Regions from separate parts of the Homo sapiens genome. Here region 1 is linked to region 2. Evidence: fine-mapped expression QTL. A gene starts in region 2. The other region holds a variant in brackets. All regions are shown on one strand. Distances are between the middles of the regions. Region 1 overlaps LOC339166 (a long non-coding RNA gene). Region 2 holds the start of CAMTA2-AS1 (CAMTA2 antisense RNA 1).

Evidence for each region. PIP is the estimated chance that this variant, and not a neighbour inherited with it, causes the effect.
Region 1: its variant is fine-mapped to the expression of CAMTA2-AS1 in adrenal gland (GTEx, PIP 0.95).

The regions. Positions count from the first base shown.
Region 1 is chr17:5,806,829-5,815,154 of GRCh38, reverse strand. All of the region lies in intron 1 of LOC339166 (a long non-coding RNA gene), which reads right to left. Among named protein-coding and RNA genes, the nearest start is that of NLRP1, 230 kb to the right of the region's middle. The variant G/A (reference allele first, on the strand shown) is at 4,821.
Region 2 is chr17:4,983,409-4,991,721 of GRCh38, reverse strand. CAMTA2-AS1 (CAMTA2 antisense RNA 1) reads right to left here and starts at 3,978. Exons shown (of 3, transcript NR_187235.1): 1 at 3,497-3,978; 2 at 3,130-3,306; 3 at 1,777-3,035. CAMTA2 (calmodulin binding transcription activator 2) reads left to right here and starts at 4,047. Exons shown (of 23, transcript NM_015099.4): 1 at 4,047-4,129; 2 at 5,436-5,530; 3 at 5,739-5,842. The coding sequence starts at 5,500. It overlaps INCA1 (inhibitor of CDK, cyclin A1 interacting protein 1), which reads left to right. Exons shown (of 7, transcript NM_001394789.1): 3 at 1,457-1,570; 4 at 1,793-1,832; 5 at 2,098-2,294; 6 at 2,778-2,943; 7 at 3,168-3,592. The coding sequence ends at 3,317. RefSeq lists a silencer at 4,028-4,567.

The sequences.
Region 1 (8,326 bases), 820 kb before region 2:
TGCACCATTTGGGCCTCTCGGCTGGGAGGCATTTTAAAATCTAATACCTGTATCAGCAAAGGTAAAGAAGCCAGGTTCTGACAAATTGATGGTGAAATGCACGTTATCTTTCTGAGGGACAACTGGGTAATAAGAATTAAAAGAATTCTAAGTATACTTTTGGTGTAGCAATTCTAGGAATTGATCCTGAGGAAATAATCAAGAATCACAGAAAACTTTGGGAGCTTTAAAAATATACAGATGCCTGGAACCCGCCGTCAGGAATTCTGAATTCTGGGGTGCTGTTAGAGGGTTGTCCATTAGAGTTTCTATCATGATCCTGAAAAATCAGTGGACAAAACCCAAATAGCCAATGACTTAGGGCTGGACAAAAATACACTACACTGTAAAATATTTCAAGAAATAATATGAACCATTACAATAATTTTTTTTTTTTGAGACGGAGTTTCGCTCTTGTTGCCCAGGCTAAAGTGCAGTGGCGCAATCTCGGCTCACCGCAACCTCCACCTCCCGGGTTCAAGCAATTCTCCTGCCTCAGCCTCCTGAGTAGCTGGGATTACAGGCATGCACCATCACGCCCGGCTAATTTTGTATTTTTAGTACAGACGGGGTTTCTCCATGTTGGCCAGGCTGGTCTCAAACTCCCGACCTCAGGTGATCCACCTGCCTCAGCCTTCCAAAGTGCTGTGATTACGGGCATGAGCCACCATGCCCAGCCCCATTAAAATCATTTTAGAAATATGTTTAGAGACTTGGAAAGGTGTTCACATTAAGATTAAAAATAGTGTGTTTATTGATTTCCAATCATTGCATACATATATAATATAGTGAGAAAGAATTAATATATATGAAGTAATGGAAGGACCTACCTCTGTAATATTAACAATCATTTTTCCTAAGTAAGAGCATTATTACTGTGGTTACATTTATTTTCTTTCTTTCTTTCTTTCTTTTTTTTTTTTTTGAGACAGAGTCTCCCTCTGTCACCCAAGCTGGAGTGCAATGGCATGATCTTGGCTCACTGCAACCTCCGCCTCCCGAGTTCAAGTGATTCTCCTGCCTCAGCCTCCCAAGTATCTGGGACTACAGGTGCACACCACCACACCTGGCTAATTTTTGTATTTTTAGTAGAGACAGGGTTTTACCACATTGGCCAGGCTGGTCTCAAACTCCTGACCTCAGGTGATCCACCCGCTTCAGCTTCTCAAAGTGCTGGGATTATGTGTTATTTTCTTAATTATATTTTCTAATTTTGCTACAGTAAACATGTATTATTTGTAATTTTAAAAAGTTAAAGTTGGCGCAGGTTAAACACATGCATTTAGCACTGCTCTATCTCAAGCCTCACTAAAATAACAATAAAAGGATTTCTTTTAAGTCATAAGCCCATTAGGTTTTAAAAGGTAAGTGAAAGGATATAACTACAACAAAATTTTGGAAGCAGGAAAGCAGCTGGAGGAGCAGTTGGAAGGGCTGTAACTAAGAAATCTGCTTCTCAATCAAGAGTAAGAAAAGCCAACAGGCAACCTGGATTACATCTCAGACCACCTGCCCCCACTACCATAGTCTGCTGGAAATGTAGATTAACATGTGACAGAAACAAAGCCATTAGTTGAGAGTCTGTGTAAGAAGATCGCAAGTCCCTTTTTCCTCACCCCTGCAGAGAACTGAAGCTTTAGTCTCTGGAAGGTCTATTCTCTAGGGAAAGGAAAAAAAATAGAGGCACTGAAGCACCCCAGATACAGCAGAGAGCAGGGAGAATTAGTAAAGGTTTGCAGACTCAGTGCGGAACCCCACCTCCCAGACTTCTTCTCGCCCTCAGCTCCCAGATTGCTAGGCAGGACATGGAAATGATCTCCAGGTCATCTGACAATCTCCAAAGGAAAAACCTAGAGATACCAACATTGAGATGCCCAGAGACCAGCTACGTGAAGCTCACAATTGACAAGCTGTATCCATAAGCGCAGCTTCCAGTTAGCTTTCAAATATGAGCTGGAACTAAGGCTCCCCAGACAGTTGAGGAGAACTTTAATGTGAAAGACAGAAACTTAAATAAGCATGGGAAAAAGAGCAGCTTGGAGGAGGCAGAGACCTTGCAGGAAAAGGGAAACTTAAAGAGAGAGAAAACTATCCATCACAGTAGTGTAAACCAAAAGTATCTGAGACAGGTCTCAATCAATTTAGGAAGCTTATTTTGCAAAGGTTAAGGACACAGCCTCAGGAGATCCTGAGGACGTGTGCCCAAGGTGGGCAGGGAACGGCTTCGTTTTATTCATTTAGGGAGACATGAGACATTAATCACTACATATAATATGTACATTGGATCCATCTGGAAATGTGGGACAACCAGGGTGGGGCTTCCAAGTCATAGATGGATTCAAAGACTTTCTGACTGGCAATTGGTCAAAAGAGTTATTCTCAATAGAGAGGAATGGCTGGGTGCGGAGGCTCATGCCTGTAATCCCAGCACTTTGAGAGGCTCAGGCAGGCGGATCATGAGGTCAGGAGATTGAGACCATCCTGGCTAACATGGTGAAACCCCATCTCTACTCAAAATAAAAAAAACTAGCCAGGAGTGGTGGCGGGCACCTGTAGTCCCAGCTACTCAGGAGGCTGAGGCAGGAGAATGGCATGAACCCAGGAGGTGGAGCTTGCAGTAAGCCGAGATTGCACCACTGCACTCCAGCCTGGGTGATAGAGCAAGACTCTGTCTCAAAAAAAAAAAAAAAAAAAAAAATCACTAGAAAGGAATGTCTGGGTAACCATAAGGGGTTGTGGAGACCAAGGCTTTATCATGCAGACAAAGACTCCAGGTAGCAGGATACAGAGAGAATAGACTGTAAATGTTTCTTCTCAGATGTACAGAGTCTGTTCTATCCATAATTCCAAAAGGGCAGAGGGGATAATGAGGCATGTCCAGCTCCCTCTTCCCATCATGGCCTGAACTTGTTTTTCAGCTTAACTTTGGAATGCCCTTGGCCAAGAGGAGGGGTCCCTTTAGATGGCTGTGGGGGTCTTAGAATTTTATTTTTGGTTTGCAGAGAGGAAAGATTGCTGTAAAAAAATAATGAGGCCAGGCGCAGTGGCTCACGCTTGTAATTCCAGCCTTTTGGGAGGCTGAAGCAGGCAGATTATGAGGTCAAGAGATCAAGACCATCCTGGCCAACATGGTGAAACCCCATCTCTACTAAAAATATAAAAAATTAGCCAGGCATGGTGGCTCACGCCTGTAGTCCAGCTACTCGGGAGGCTGAGGCAGGAGAACCACTTGAACCCAGGAAGCAGAGGTTGCAGTGAGCCGAGATCATGCCACTGCACTCCAACCTGGTGACAAAGTGAGATTCTATCTCAAAAAAACAGAAAATGGCACCGATTAAAAAAAAAGAATGAAATAACATAAACATCAAAAAACTTCTAAAATTATCAAATAGCTTCTAAAATTATGCAGAAATGAAAAACTCATTAGGATAGACGATAGAGTGAAGAGATATCTCCCAAAAGACAAAAAGGTGGAAAGGAGAAAAATATGTTAGCAGACATGTCCAGAAGGTATAATATTTAAACAAAAGGAATTTCAGAAAGGGGACCTGAGAAAATGATGAAAGGAACAATTGACTAAAAATCCCAAAACTGAAGGATCCACATTGAAAGGAAAATAATTACCAACCTATAAGTCTTTACCCAGCAAAGCTACCAATTATGTGTAAAGGTCAAATGAAGATATTGTCAGACATGCAAGATGTCAAAAGTCTATCTTCCAGGCACTGTTTCTCATGAAAACAGCAGAGATGGGTTGGTCCCCAATAAGCAGGGTAAACAGAGAAAGAGATACAGGGGACAGAGTACACAGGAGATCCAACCCAGGAGACAGGCAAAGAGAATCTCCACAATGATGTGATGGAAGGTCCCAGATGTCAACTAAGCAGCAGGCTGGGAGAACACCCACCTCTGACAGGCTGGTTAGGGGTTTCTTCAGGAAAATGAAACATATAGTATATCTGTCTGAACACCTTCTGGGGAAATCTAGACAATTGGCAGAGAGCTTGGCATTGGATTATTGGAAAATCCACAGAAAACGAGAGAAATGAAAGACCCAGGACAGTTATGAATTGCATGGAAGATGAAAGGCTGGGCCATCATAGTATGCAGAAAAGTAATCGTGGCCAGGTGCAGTGGCTCATGCCTGCAATCCCAACACTTTGGGAGGCTGAGGTGAGTGGATCATTTGAGGTCAGGAGTTTGAGACCAGCCTGGCCAATACGGTAAAACCCCGTTTCCACTAAAAATACAAAAATTAACTGGGCATGGTGGTGCATGCCTGTAATCCCAGCTACTTAGGAGGCTGAGGCAGGAGAATCACTTGAACTGGAGAAGTGGAGGTTGCAGTGAGCTGAGATCATGCCATTGCACCCAGCCTGGGTGACAGAGTGAGACCCTGTCCCAAGGGGAAAAAAAAAGAAAGAAAAAGTAATCATAGGACACTGCACGTTCCTGCTATAAAAGCACTTACATAGGGATTGTAACATAAACCTGGTGGTGATCTCACCAAAATCTTCACCATGTTTTGGGAGGAAAGAGAATGGGGGAAGAGCAGTGAGAAGAAAAAAGAGCTAAATCCATCTTATTCACAGTAGGAAACCAGGAGATAGTGCCCAACACTACACAATATAGAAATAGCTGCAAGATTATTATATAAAGCAAAGAGATCAATACCACAAGAATGGGCTAAAATCTTGAAAGTTCTTGCCTCCAGGGATGAGAAAGAGGGAGGACGGTTTCCAATAACAAGCCTCATAGACCTATCAGGGTCTTCAAATTTG[G/A]TATATGTATAAATTGGATAAAAACTAAAACAAATTATCCCTTTTTTAACTTGGGCAATGGAACTAAAGGCTTTCTGAAATTGCCTTTACCTATAACAGTGCAGGGCTCAAAGTGATTTCTTATTTTTAGGAAACACAATAGGCAGTTTTCTTGAACTCTGAGGTCTTCTGGCATCCCTTGCTGTTTGTGAAATGACTCCCTTAAGTGAAGAAATAGATCAGAGTCACATTCCCTGTGTATTGAGTTTGGGTGCGTTTTGGCATGTCCCTGCCACTGAGCCCTGTGAATCGATGTAAAGCACAGGACTAATGAGATCCTGGTGCACATCAGCTGCCCCTCAGTCACCCCCAACTCCTTCCCTAGACAGGCCTTGGACTCCAGCAAATCAAGGGCAGCTCATGCCCCTTGCTGGGGGCTCTCCTAGCCCCCTCCTCCATCACCCACTATGCATATTCCTGAGGCTGCAATGAATGTTCCCAGAGATTGTTGCAGGAATCAAGGGACAAGAGAGACCAATGGGTGAGACAGGAGGATTTATTAGGTGTGCACCAGCCCAGTGGATTAGCATCCAAAGGCTGAGCCCTGAACAAAGACAGGGCTTGACTTTTATATATGCATCCAAAAGGGGACTGGCCAGTTTGATGGCAGAAAACCCGTAGGGCAGGCAAGCAAGCTTACAGAAGCAGAACAAAGGCAGTGGGTCAAACAGTGACAAGTTTTGCAACTCAAACATACCTTGTGAACTTGCACAGAAGGGAAACACATGAACTTATAAAACTTGCAAAAATAATTATGAGAATAGTAAGGGGAAACGGGGAAGCTGAAAGAGAAAAAACTTGTTTTTCTCATCCCTGCTCCAGGACAGGAGGGAGAGGCTCTGGAGCCCATCCCTTCTGGGCCCTGGCTCTGCAGATAGTGCTATCAGAGCCCTGACAGAGCCCTGCCCATCTCTGGGCCTTGGAGTGAGTCAGCCTAGTACAGGAAAATTTGTTTTTCTTTTTATAACTTCTGCTTCAAGATGGCCTAGAACCCATCTAATCAGGCACCTGTCTTGTCTCCACCACCTGCTCACCACCAGTTTTTGTGGCCACTTCACATCCACAGTGAGTGCTGGGGGCTGCGGCCTTGGGCCAAGTCACTGCCAGGAAAGTGCTTGGCAGCTTCCAGCCAGGGAGCAGGTGGCAACAGCAACCACCCAGCAAGGCCACCCAGCAAACCCAGCAGCAGGAGTTTTCTCCACTGTTGAGCTAGCATTTATTACTCTTAAAATAAAGTGGTGCCATGCAGCATGAATTCAGGAGAAGAAGCTGCAAATTCCAGGCCCTTTTGAAGGCTTGTTTTCACAATGAATTAATAGGCTTTAATTTAACACTGCATCAACAAACCAGGCTGCTGAAGGAATTCCAAATACTAGCGGCTTTCTGCACCCATTCTGGCTCTCAGCTGCCACCACAGGACTGCAGCAACATTATTCATCACTGTGCAAGATAATAACAGTAATAGCTAATATTTATTGAGTGCTTACTATGTGTCAAGCATTGTGTTCAACGCTTTACAAGCATTATTGCACTTAATCTTCACAAAAAGCCTCTGAAGTAGACATTATTATTACCTTTATTTTATAGAAGAGAAAATAAGCTTATGAAGGTGAAGTTGCTTAAGGTCACATAGGTAGAAAGTGGTAGAACCAAAGTGTGAACCCATGTACTGATAGAAGTCCCCAGGAAATGTTGTTTGCTGGGATCCAGGTGCCCTAAACTCACCACTTTGTGACCAGGTCTTTTCCTTTTGCTCGCCAGACCTCTAAATTAGATGAAACTTATCAGCCTTAAATATAAAGTATAAAACAGGCTGATTCAATTTGATTATAATGCAACTGTCTGAAGTAGGAGTAAATGTTCTGCTTGAAATATAAAAGAAATATCATTTAAAAGGACTCCTGGGCTACTTGTGCCTCAACAGCCATGCTGTTTACATCTATTTCAGTATTTATGAGGGCAGTCCCTGGCTGTCCTCATAAAGAGTTAGAATCAGTCCCATGACCAGCTCTCTGAGACAGCTTTGGCTTTGACCTTGCCAAGGTTCTCAAACAGAGTTGCTGTCTAACCTGGCTATACATAGTCCCACCTGCTCAGCAACCTGCGGGCAGCCAGTGCCTCCTCCCCACATCCAAGGAGCGGATGTAAAAAACATCTGGTGGATCACAAGGGTAAGAGATAGAGACCATCCTGGCCAACATGATGAAAGCCTGTCTCTGCTAAAAATACAAAAATTAGCTGGTCATGGTGGTACACACCTGTAGTCTCAGCTACTCGGGAGGCTGAGGCAGAAGAATTGCTTGAACCCAGAAGGCGGAGGTTGCAGTGAGCCGAGATCATGCCACTGCACTCCAGCCTCATGACAGAGCAAGACTCCATCTCAAAAAGAAAAAAAAAAAAAAAGAAATCTGCAACTCAGCAATACCTCAGGGAGCATCTTTTTAGTCTCTTATAGTCATGACATATTTTGTGACACAGATTTTCTACTTTTCCCCACAAAGGGCCCCAAAAACTCTTCTGATATGTGATCACAGACAGAAAACCTCTCTGAACTTTTTTGGAAAAATAGCTCATTATTGAACTGCAGCACTGAGTTTGTAAAATAATTTGGAAGGAAGGGGAAGTATGTGCTCCTCTCTTCTCCCCTCTCCTGTCCTCTCCTGTACATACCTCCCCTTTCTGCCAAACCACAATAAAATGACAGAAGAAGAATAAATATAAGAATAGCTTATAACTGCCTTGTAAAACAAGGAGGAATACCATTGATAAAAAGATATTTATCACTGAACAGTAAAGAATCAAAACATAGGGAAAAAAAGCTTTTCAGAAAAATGAAGAGATAAAATTACTAGCCTATTGACATTAACATACCTCTGCCCCCCAAAGAGAGAGAGAACTCAGTTATAATTATAATTAACAAATATGATTCAGTAGATATGTAGAGGACTTCATAACTTATAATGAAAGCATTGAATGTTTACAAAGACTGACCAGGATAAATGCATAAAGAAAATTTCAGTACATGCCAAAAAATGTAGGACATTAACAAGGAATCTTCTCTGGCTAGAAAAGAATAAAACTAGAAACATTTAACAAAAGAATAATATCAGAAAACTAACCACAAAAAAATTTGAAAAGCACTGTTCAAAGGTAACTAAAATTACAGGTCACTTAAAAATTAAAGACACAAAGATCACTATATATAAAATCCCAGGGGATGAAGACCAAAGCCCAGCTCAAAGAAAAAGTGATCACCCAAAATACTTTTATTCTCAAACAAAAAGAATGAAAACAAATCAACCAAGCTTTCAATTCAATAAGTTAGATGACAAACCATGAGATTTTTTAAGGTAGATGAAATATTTAATCTTTGTAGTTGAAAGCAAGAAAGAATGAATTAAAAAGAAACACAATATCTATGAAGCTCAACAAACTAAAAACCTGGTTATCTGGAAATTCTGGTAAAA
Region 2 (8,313 bases):
TGTTGAGTGGAGCCCAGAGAGGAACCAGGGCTGGATATATAGATTTGGGAGTCATCAGCTTATTGACAGCATGGTACTGGGTGAGATCACCTAAGAAGAGATGAAGACAGAGAAGATAAAGGGCCCCAGGCCTAAGCCCTAACATACTCCATTTCTTAGAGATCAGGAGGGCAATCATCATTCAGCCTGTGGGGTTTGGAAGTGACGAGCAGTGTTCTCAAACAGCTCTGCACACTCCTATTTACAAGGATATTAGTCCTTTTGAGATGGGGAGACAAATGAAGTAAACAGAGGTTCTCTCCCCTGGATCCTTGCATTGACCTAAATGAATCCTATCTGTCATATAACCTGAGTAGCCAAGGCCTTCCTCTTTAACAACTCTGCTTGCTAAATATTACCTTCTCTAACTATGAGGTATAAAGCAAGCTTGTCCAACCTGCGGCCTAGGATGGCTTTGAAGCAGTCCAACACAAATTCATAAACTTTCTTAAAACGTTGAGATTAGGCCGGGCACAATGGCTCACACCTGTAATCCCAGCACTTTGGGAGGCCGAGGCGGGTGGATCACCTGAGGTCAGGAGTTCAAGACCAGCCTGGCTAACATGGCAAAACCCCGTCTCTACTAAAAATACAAAATTGGCCGGGCGTGGTAGTGGGTGCCTGTAATCCCAGCTACTCGGGAGGCTGAGGCAGGAGAATCACTTGAACCCGGGAGGTGGAGGTTGCAGTGAGCCGAGATCGTGCCATTGCACTCCAGCCTGGGTGACAAGAGTGAAACGGTCTCAATAAATACATAAATAAAATAAAATATTATGAGATTTTTTGCAATTTTTTTTTTGAGACGGAGTTTCTCTCTTGTCACCCAAGCTGGAGTGCAATGGCGCGATTTCGACTCACTGCAACCTCCTCCTCCCGGGTTCAAGTGATTCTCCTGCCTCAGCCTCCCGAGTAGCTGGGATTACAGGTGCCCGCCACCACGCCTGGCTAATTTTTTGTGATTTTAGTAGAGACGGGGTTTCAACATGTTGGCCAGGCTGGTCTTGGACTCCAGACCTCAGGTGATCCACCCACATCAGCCTCCCAAAGTGCTGGGATTACAGGCATGAGCCACCACGCCCGGCCAGTGTTAGTGTACTTTATGTGTGGCCCAAGACAATTTTTCTTCTTCCAATGTGGCCCAGGAAGCCAAAAGATTGGACATCCCCGATATAGAGCTTAAACTCAGTGAGATCTGAGGGTCAAACTATAGCCAATCTCCACCCTCAACCCAGCTTCAATTTCCTTTCAAAGCAGAGGCCTTACCACCTTCTTCAGCTAAAGTGGTTAAGAGAGGACATGGCCCGAGGGAACCTGGGCAGCTTTATAGTCCCATGGAAAGATGGCCCCTGAATCCTTGGGATGAGTAGACTGCTGTAAGGGAAGAGCCAGACCCGAGCCTACCTTGTCCTCACCTCAGGTGTTCCAGGGTGGTCAGCCGATCTCCACCCCCAAGGTTGCCTTCCCAGAGCCTCAGACCCATGCCCCAGCGTTATGGAGATGTCTTCTGGAAGAACCTTAATCAAAGGCCCACGTGAGTAGAGGAGAAAATGGAAACTAACTGGATGTGGTCTTAACTGGATTAAACTACCATAAACCCATATAGCAATAGGCCCTAGTCTGCGGTTAATTTCCCACTGGCTGGTGGACATTGTAGCTCCTAATGACAGAAAGGAGGTCGGGAGAGATTATTAAAGAAGCAATATGGATGGACATGTCCCCTCTGCACTTATAGCCCCCTTTTTGTTCTTCACAGCCCCACTTGGCTGGAGGAGCAGCACATTCCACCCATGCTGGTAAGACAGACCCTCTGCCGTTTAACATTTCTCTGTTAAAATTGCACCCACTGCTGTCCTGTCCCAAGCTCTCCTTATTACCGCTTCCCTCTGTTATTCCCCAACCAGTGCACTGACCAGGCCTTCCTTTCTATGAATCAGTCATCATGTTTTCGAGATCACAGGGGTCTTCCCAAGACCCCAGACTCCCTACCTAGTTCAATCCAAGCTCCCTTGAGAGAGCCAGTTCTTCTTTCTAGCTCTTTTTCCCCATTCTCTGGCACAGAGAGCCACTGGTTGCTCCCAGCTTGGTCTGTATCCTCCTGAGCAGCTCCCACCCCCTGAAATGCTTTGGAGAAGAAAGAAGAGGAGGCCATGTTTGGAAGGAATGCAGCAGCAGGGCCTTGGGGGAGTCCCCGCCCGGGTGAGGGCTGTCACTTACCACCTGGAGGACCTAAGAAGGCGTCAGAGCATCATCAACGAGTAAGGAAGGGAGACATCTGGGTTCTGGGAGTCATGCAGGATTTGGGGGCAGAACAGTTTGAGCTAAGGAAGGGGTTGACAGCTTTGAGGGGAGGTTTGAGGGGAGCTTTGAGGGGAGGTTGCTTGGAAGGAAGCTGTGGGCTTTGGTGTGATTGAAACAGATTTCTGTAATATGGAAAGAAGGAGGGAACTGCAGTAAGGAGGATGAGCCACATGAGCTGGAAGGAGTGGAAACTAGATCACTGAAGACAGGAAAGCAAACCATAGAACTGGAGGACAGTGGGGAGGTTGGGGTCACCTCTGGGTTCCTAGACAATATGCTTCAGTCTGAGGGGAGCAGAAAATTGGGAGTGGAGGGTTAAAGGTCAAATGACAACTCCCTGGAGTCCCAGCAGGAAGTATTTCAGAACAGAAAGGTGAAGAATGGAGAGACAGGAAGCCTGGCCTCCAGGCACTTCTCTCCTCAGCCTAAAGTCTCCACAGACTGAAGAAGGCCCAGTGGGGCAGCTCTGGGGCTGCATCTGAGCCAGTGGTGCTTGGCGAAGAGGGCTGTGGATTCCCCAGCACCAATGAATACCCTGATCTGGAAGAGGAGAGAGCAACCTATCCACAGGAAGAGGACCGTTTTCTCACTCCTGGCAGGGCCCAGGTATTGTTGGAGTGGAACTGGGTGGAGTGAGGGAGTGATGTGGGTCTCTGGTCTTGCATGGAGATGCAGAAGCTGAGAGCCAGGCTGGAGAGCTGGATTTGAGAGAAACAAAAATAACGTAGGTGAGAACCAGAGACTTCGAGGTACCTAAGCTTGGGTACTAGGAAATCTGGAAAGAAGACCTACTTTTCCATTTTCTTTTTCAATTTCTCTCATCTTGACAGCTGCTTTGGTCTCCCTGGAGCCCCCTGGATCAGGAGGAGGCTTGTGCCTCCAGGCAGCTGCACTCTCTGGCCTCGTTCAGCACTGTCACAGCCAGAAGGAACCCCCTTCACAATCCCTGGGGGATGGAGTTGGCAGCGTCTGAAGAGTAAGGAGAAACCACCGATGCCGAGAGGCTAGTGGTGCCCCAGGGACCCAAGACTAGTTCCGTCACTAGAGTCACCCTCATTGCTGACATGAAGGCGTTTCCCCTTCCTTCGTCTCTCCAACTGCCTTTCCCATCCTCTGAACTAGGCATTAACAGCCCCCGTGGGCTCCCATCTCAACCCACCGCTCTCACAGGAGCACCCCAAGTCCTGTTTTCCTCCAGGCCCCGCTCCTGGCCTTGTATTCTCTCTGCTCTGTTATTAAAAAGCAAGCAAGTGGAGCCCGAGTTGTCTTTCTTCTTGGGATGCAGCGATGGAGAGGCCAATGGGGAAGGAGGGCTCCTTTCGCTTTCTCGAGGACCCAGCTACAATGAAGTCGGGCTGGGTCCCCAGACAAGGAGTCTTGTCCGAGGCGAGAAGGGTCCTGCTCCCAGTCCAGCGTTCCTCGCCCGGCCCCTCGGGTTCCAGCACTGGTGGGCTGCCCCCGCCCCGTTCTCTCGAACTGGGAGTCAGTCGGCCGAGCTTCCGCCTCCAGGACCCTGGAATCCTGCCCCTCAGTGCTGCTGCCCTTTTGGGGACTTCCCAGCAGTCTGTCCCTCGGCCTGGCTCAGAGCCCTAGAAGCCGAGTCCCTCTGCCCAGCGCCCCACCCAGAACTCCACGTGTGCTGACCCCAGGTTCCCTTCCTGACCCTCATCCCCTTAATTGGGAGGCCCCGCCCCGTGCGCAGTGACGTTAGACGCCGCTGTCAGCCGGCGCTGGGGGGGGTCGGTGTGGGGTAGAATGGCCGCTGCCGCCGTCACCCGCGGGACCCCGGGAGGTAAGAGCCAGGGCCTCTCGCCCGCCTCTCCGCCCCCGCGCCAGAGGGCGCAGCTCCTCCAGGTCCCGACGCGGAGCGCCGCGCCAGGGACCACCGTCCCTCTTCCCGGTTCGCCCTCACCTCCCGCTTCCGTCCTCCTCCCCCGCGCCAGGGGGCGCCGCTCACCGCAGGGCCCCACGGCGGACCAGCGCGTGCCGGGGACTGTCCCGGAGACCCCCGCACCCGGCACCTGCACTGTCCCTCGCCCACCGCGTGCCCGCGGACTCTGCTCCCGGCTTCTCCAGAACATCCCTCTATGCGGGCGGGACCCTCCCACCTCGGAGGTTCTCCTGGGACCACCACTCCGCCGGGGGGCCGCCCAGAGTGCCAAGCGTCCGATCCGGCGCCGCCCAAGTGCAGCCCAAGGACCCGCTCCCGCTCCGCACCCTGGCAGGCTGCCTAGCCAGGACTGCGCACCTGCGCCCTGGGGCGGAGTCCTTACCCCAACCCCAGCTTCACTGCACATAGCCGAGCCCGACGGGCCTCCTCCCATCTCCATCCTGGACACCTGGCGGAGCCCGTGCTGAGAGCCTCCGCCAGCTCCCATCTGTTCCCCGAGGAGGGCGGGGGGCTCAGGCTGGAGCCAGAGCGGTAGATGGGGTAGGCTAGGCCTGGAGGCCAGGGGAGGCAGAGGCGTTTGGGGAGAGGGAGCTACGTAGAGAGGGCTGTCAGCCGGAGGGTGGGTTGTCCTGAGGGTGGGAATCTGGGTGTCTGGCCCAGATTCTATCAGGTCCTAACCAACCTGGAGGAGAGAATAGGTTAGGTTCAGTTATCAGATCTGCCCTTCCCCTTGGAAAAATCAAACAGAGAAGGAACTCAGGGCGTGTCTTCTAAAGGCCTAGCTTCTACCGGAGGTAGAATCTCCTGCCCTGCCCCCAGGATCCAGGCTCTCTTGCCAAACCATCCTCCAAGGACCGGATGGCCTGAGTCCCAACCCCCAGGACCTGACCCAACCATAGCCCCAGTCTGTGCAAAAGCTCAAGGTTTAGGGCCTCTGAGGCCCAAGCCCTGCCAGTCTTCTCCCCGCTCCCCCACCCCAACCCATTTCTTCCTGCTCACTCTTCCTGTCCAGTCTGCTCACTCATATTGGCTCCGGGCACTGTGTGTTGTTCTCTCTTCTACTGTCACATCACAGTCAGCCCCTCCCTCCCTTTCCTCATCCTTCCCAGATACTATGACCCAGTTCTATACCCACTCCCTACCTCATACTTCTCATCCTGGATTAATGTGGGGGCTTCTGCCATGACCTTGTTCTCTCCCTTCCCAGCACAGACTCCCCCTCCCCCCGGCCCCTCAGGCCGGGGGTGACCTTGCCCCCTGGAGCCCTCACCATGAATACCAAGGACACCACCGAGGTTGCTGGTAAGTTCACAAACCAGGTTCCCAATGTGGCCACAGCCTTTCGTTCTCCCCACGCTTTAGTGGCCCTCTAATTCTTGGATTTTCTGTTCTCCTTAGTGAGGTTTCAGTTTTCCCCAGTGCTCTGTATTGCCTTCAGCCCTTTCCCCTTGGACTATCACAGGGATGCCCCAGGGTAGCACACTAAACCCTCCCTTCTAATTCCCTTTAGAAAACAGCCACCACCTGAAGATCTTTCTCCCCAAGAAGCTGCTGGAGTGTCTTCCTCGCTGCCCGCTGCTGCCTCCAGAGAGGCTACGGTGGAATACAAATGAGGTTTTCTAGGGAGGCTGGGGGTTGGGGCCCAGCAAGACCTAGTAGGCTGGAGGAGGGTGAGTGGGGGGTCTTTCCGTGTCTGTCAACACTCCTAAGTGCAGAGCACCATTCTAAGCTCTTTGGGGATCCTAGGAGAGGTATAAAAACATGGATCTTGGCCGGGCATGGTGGCTCATGCCTGTAATCCCAGCACTTTGGGAGGCTGAGGCGGGTGGATCATCTGAGGTCAGGAGTTCAAGACCAGCCTGGCAAACATGGTGGAACCCCGTCTCTACTAAAAATACAAAAAGCAGCCAGGCGTGGTGATGTACGCCTGTAATCCCAGCTACTCGAGAGGCTGAGGCGGGAGAATTACTTGAGCCAGGGAGGCGGAGGCTGCAGTGAGCTGAGATCACGCCACTGCACTCCAGCCTGGGTGACAGAGTGAGACTCCGTCTCAAAAACAAAAACAAAAAGACATGGATCTTGAAGGAGCCCTCTTTTCTGTGGCATAGCCACCTGGGTAAAAACAAAAGCTACTGCCAGTAAAGTATTCCTTACATACTGGGCACCGTGCTAAACATTTGGCCTGCCTTGTCTCATTTAATCCTCTAACGGTTCTATAGAGCAAGCCCTGTTATTGCTCCTATGTTATTGATGAGGAAACTGATTTACCTCATAGTTTATCTAACTTACTCCAGGGCCTTTTTTTTTGAGACGGAGTCTCGCTCTTGTTGCCCAGGCTGGAGTACAATGGCGCGATCTTGGCTCACTGCAACCCCCGCCTCCTGGATTCAAGTGATTCCCCTGCCTCAGCCTCCCAAGTAGCTGGGATTACAGGCATGTGCCTCCACGCCCGGCTAATTTTTGTTTGTTTTTTTTTTGAGATGGAGTCTCGCTCTGTCGCCCAGGCTGGAGTGCAGTGGCGCGATCTCGGCTCACTGCAAGCTCTGCCTCCCAGGTTTACGCCATTCTCCTGCCTCAGCCTCCGGAGTAGCTGGGACTACAGGCACGCCACCACACCTGGCTAATTTTTGTATTTTTAGTAGAGATGGGGTTTCACTATGTTGGCCAGGCTGGTCTCGAACTCTAGACCTAGTGATCCGCCCATCTCGGCCTCCTACAGTGCTAGGATTACAGGCATGAGCCACCACGCCCGGCTGGAACCTTTGTTATTAACCACCACTGATACTGGCTCTTTCTGGAGGAGGCACAGTCCTTGTGTTACACATTTTCTGTATTCTGCATACTTACTGCCTTGTATGTAGTTGGTTGTTGATATTTATCAATTTGATGTCAGAAGAGGACTGTCAGTAAAACGATGCGTGTATGTGTGTATGTGTGATTGTTGTAAGTGCTATAGAGCGTTTAGGAAGGTCCAGTGTGGTCAGCAGGGCTTCATGGAGCATCTGAAAAGGGGTTTGGTTTATAGAATGGCTATGATTTCCAGATATGGAGAGGTGTGCACATGGTACCTGCCTTGTAGGGCACTAACATGCAGGAGGTAACTATTCAAAGCATGTTCAGGAAGGAATCAATGGATCCATCTGGCAGGAATTGTAGGAGCAATATGGGTAAATAGTGGGAACAGTGAAAGTTTGATCCCTTGTTGGGAAGAACCTTGGAGTCAGGCTAAAGAATCTGAAACTCCTGCCAGGCACAGTGGCTCACGCCTGTAATCCCAGCACTTTGGGAGGCTGAGGCGGGTGGATCACGAGGTCGGGAGATCAAGACCATCCTAGCTAACACAGTGAAACCCCGTCTCTACTAAAAATACAAAAAATTAGCCGGGCGTGGTCGTGGGCGCCTGTAGTCCCAGCTACTCAGGAGGCTGAGGCAGGAGAATGGCATGAACCCAGGAGGAAGAGCTTGCAGTGAGCCGAGATGGCGCCACTGCACTCCAGCCTGGGTGACAGAGCGAGACTCTGTCTCAAAAAAATAAATAAATAAATAAATAATCTGAAATTCCTGGCAGTGTCAAACCACTGAAATTTTTTGAGTCAGGAAGGGGCACAGAGGCCAGGAGTGGTGGCTCATGCCTGTAATCCCAGCACTTTGAGAGGCTGAGGTAGGCGGATCACCAGAGGTCAGGAGTTCAAGACCAGCATGGCCAACATGGTGAAACCCCGTTTCTACTAAAAATACAAAAATTAGCTGGGCACGGTGGCAAGTGCCTGTAATCGCAGCTACTCTGGAGGCTGAGGTAAGAGAATTGCTTGATCCTGGGGGGCGGAGGTTGCAGTGAGCTGAGATCATGCCATTGCACTCCAGCCTGGGTGACAGAGTAAGATTCTGCCTCAAAAGAAAAAAAAAAAAGTCTGGGCACGGTGGCTCACGCCTGTAATCCCAGCACTTTGGGAGGCCAAGGCGGGTGGATCACCTGAGGTCAGGAGTTCGAGACCAGCCTTACCAACATGGTGAAATCCTGTCTCTACTAAAAAAAATACAAAATTACCCGGGCATGGTGGCGCATGCCTGTAATCCCAGCTACC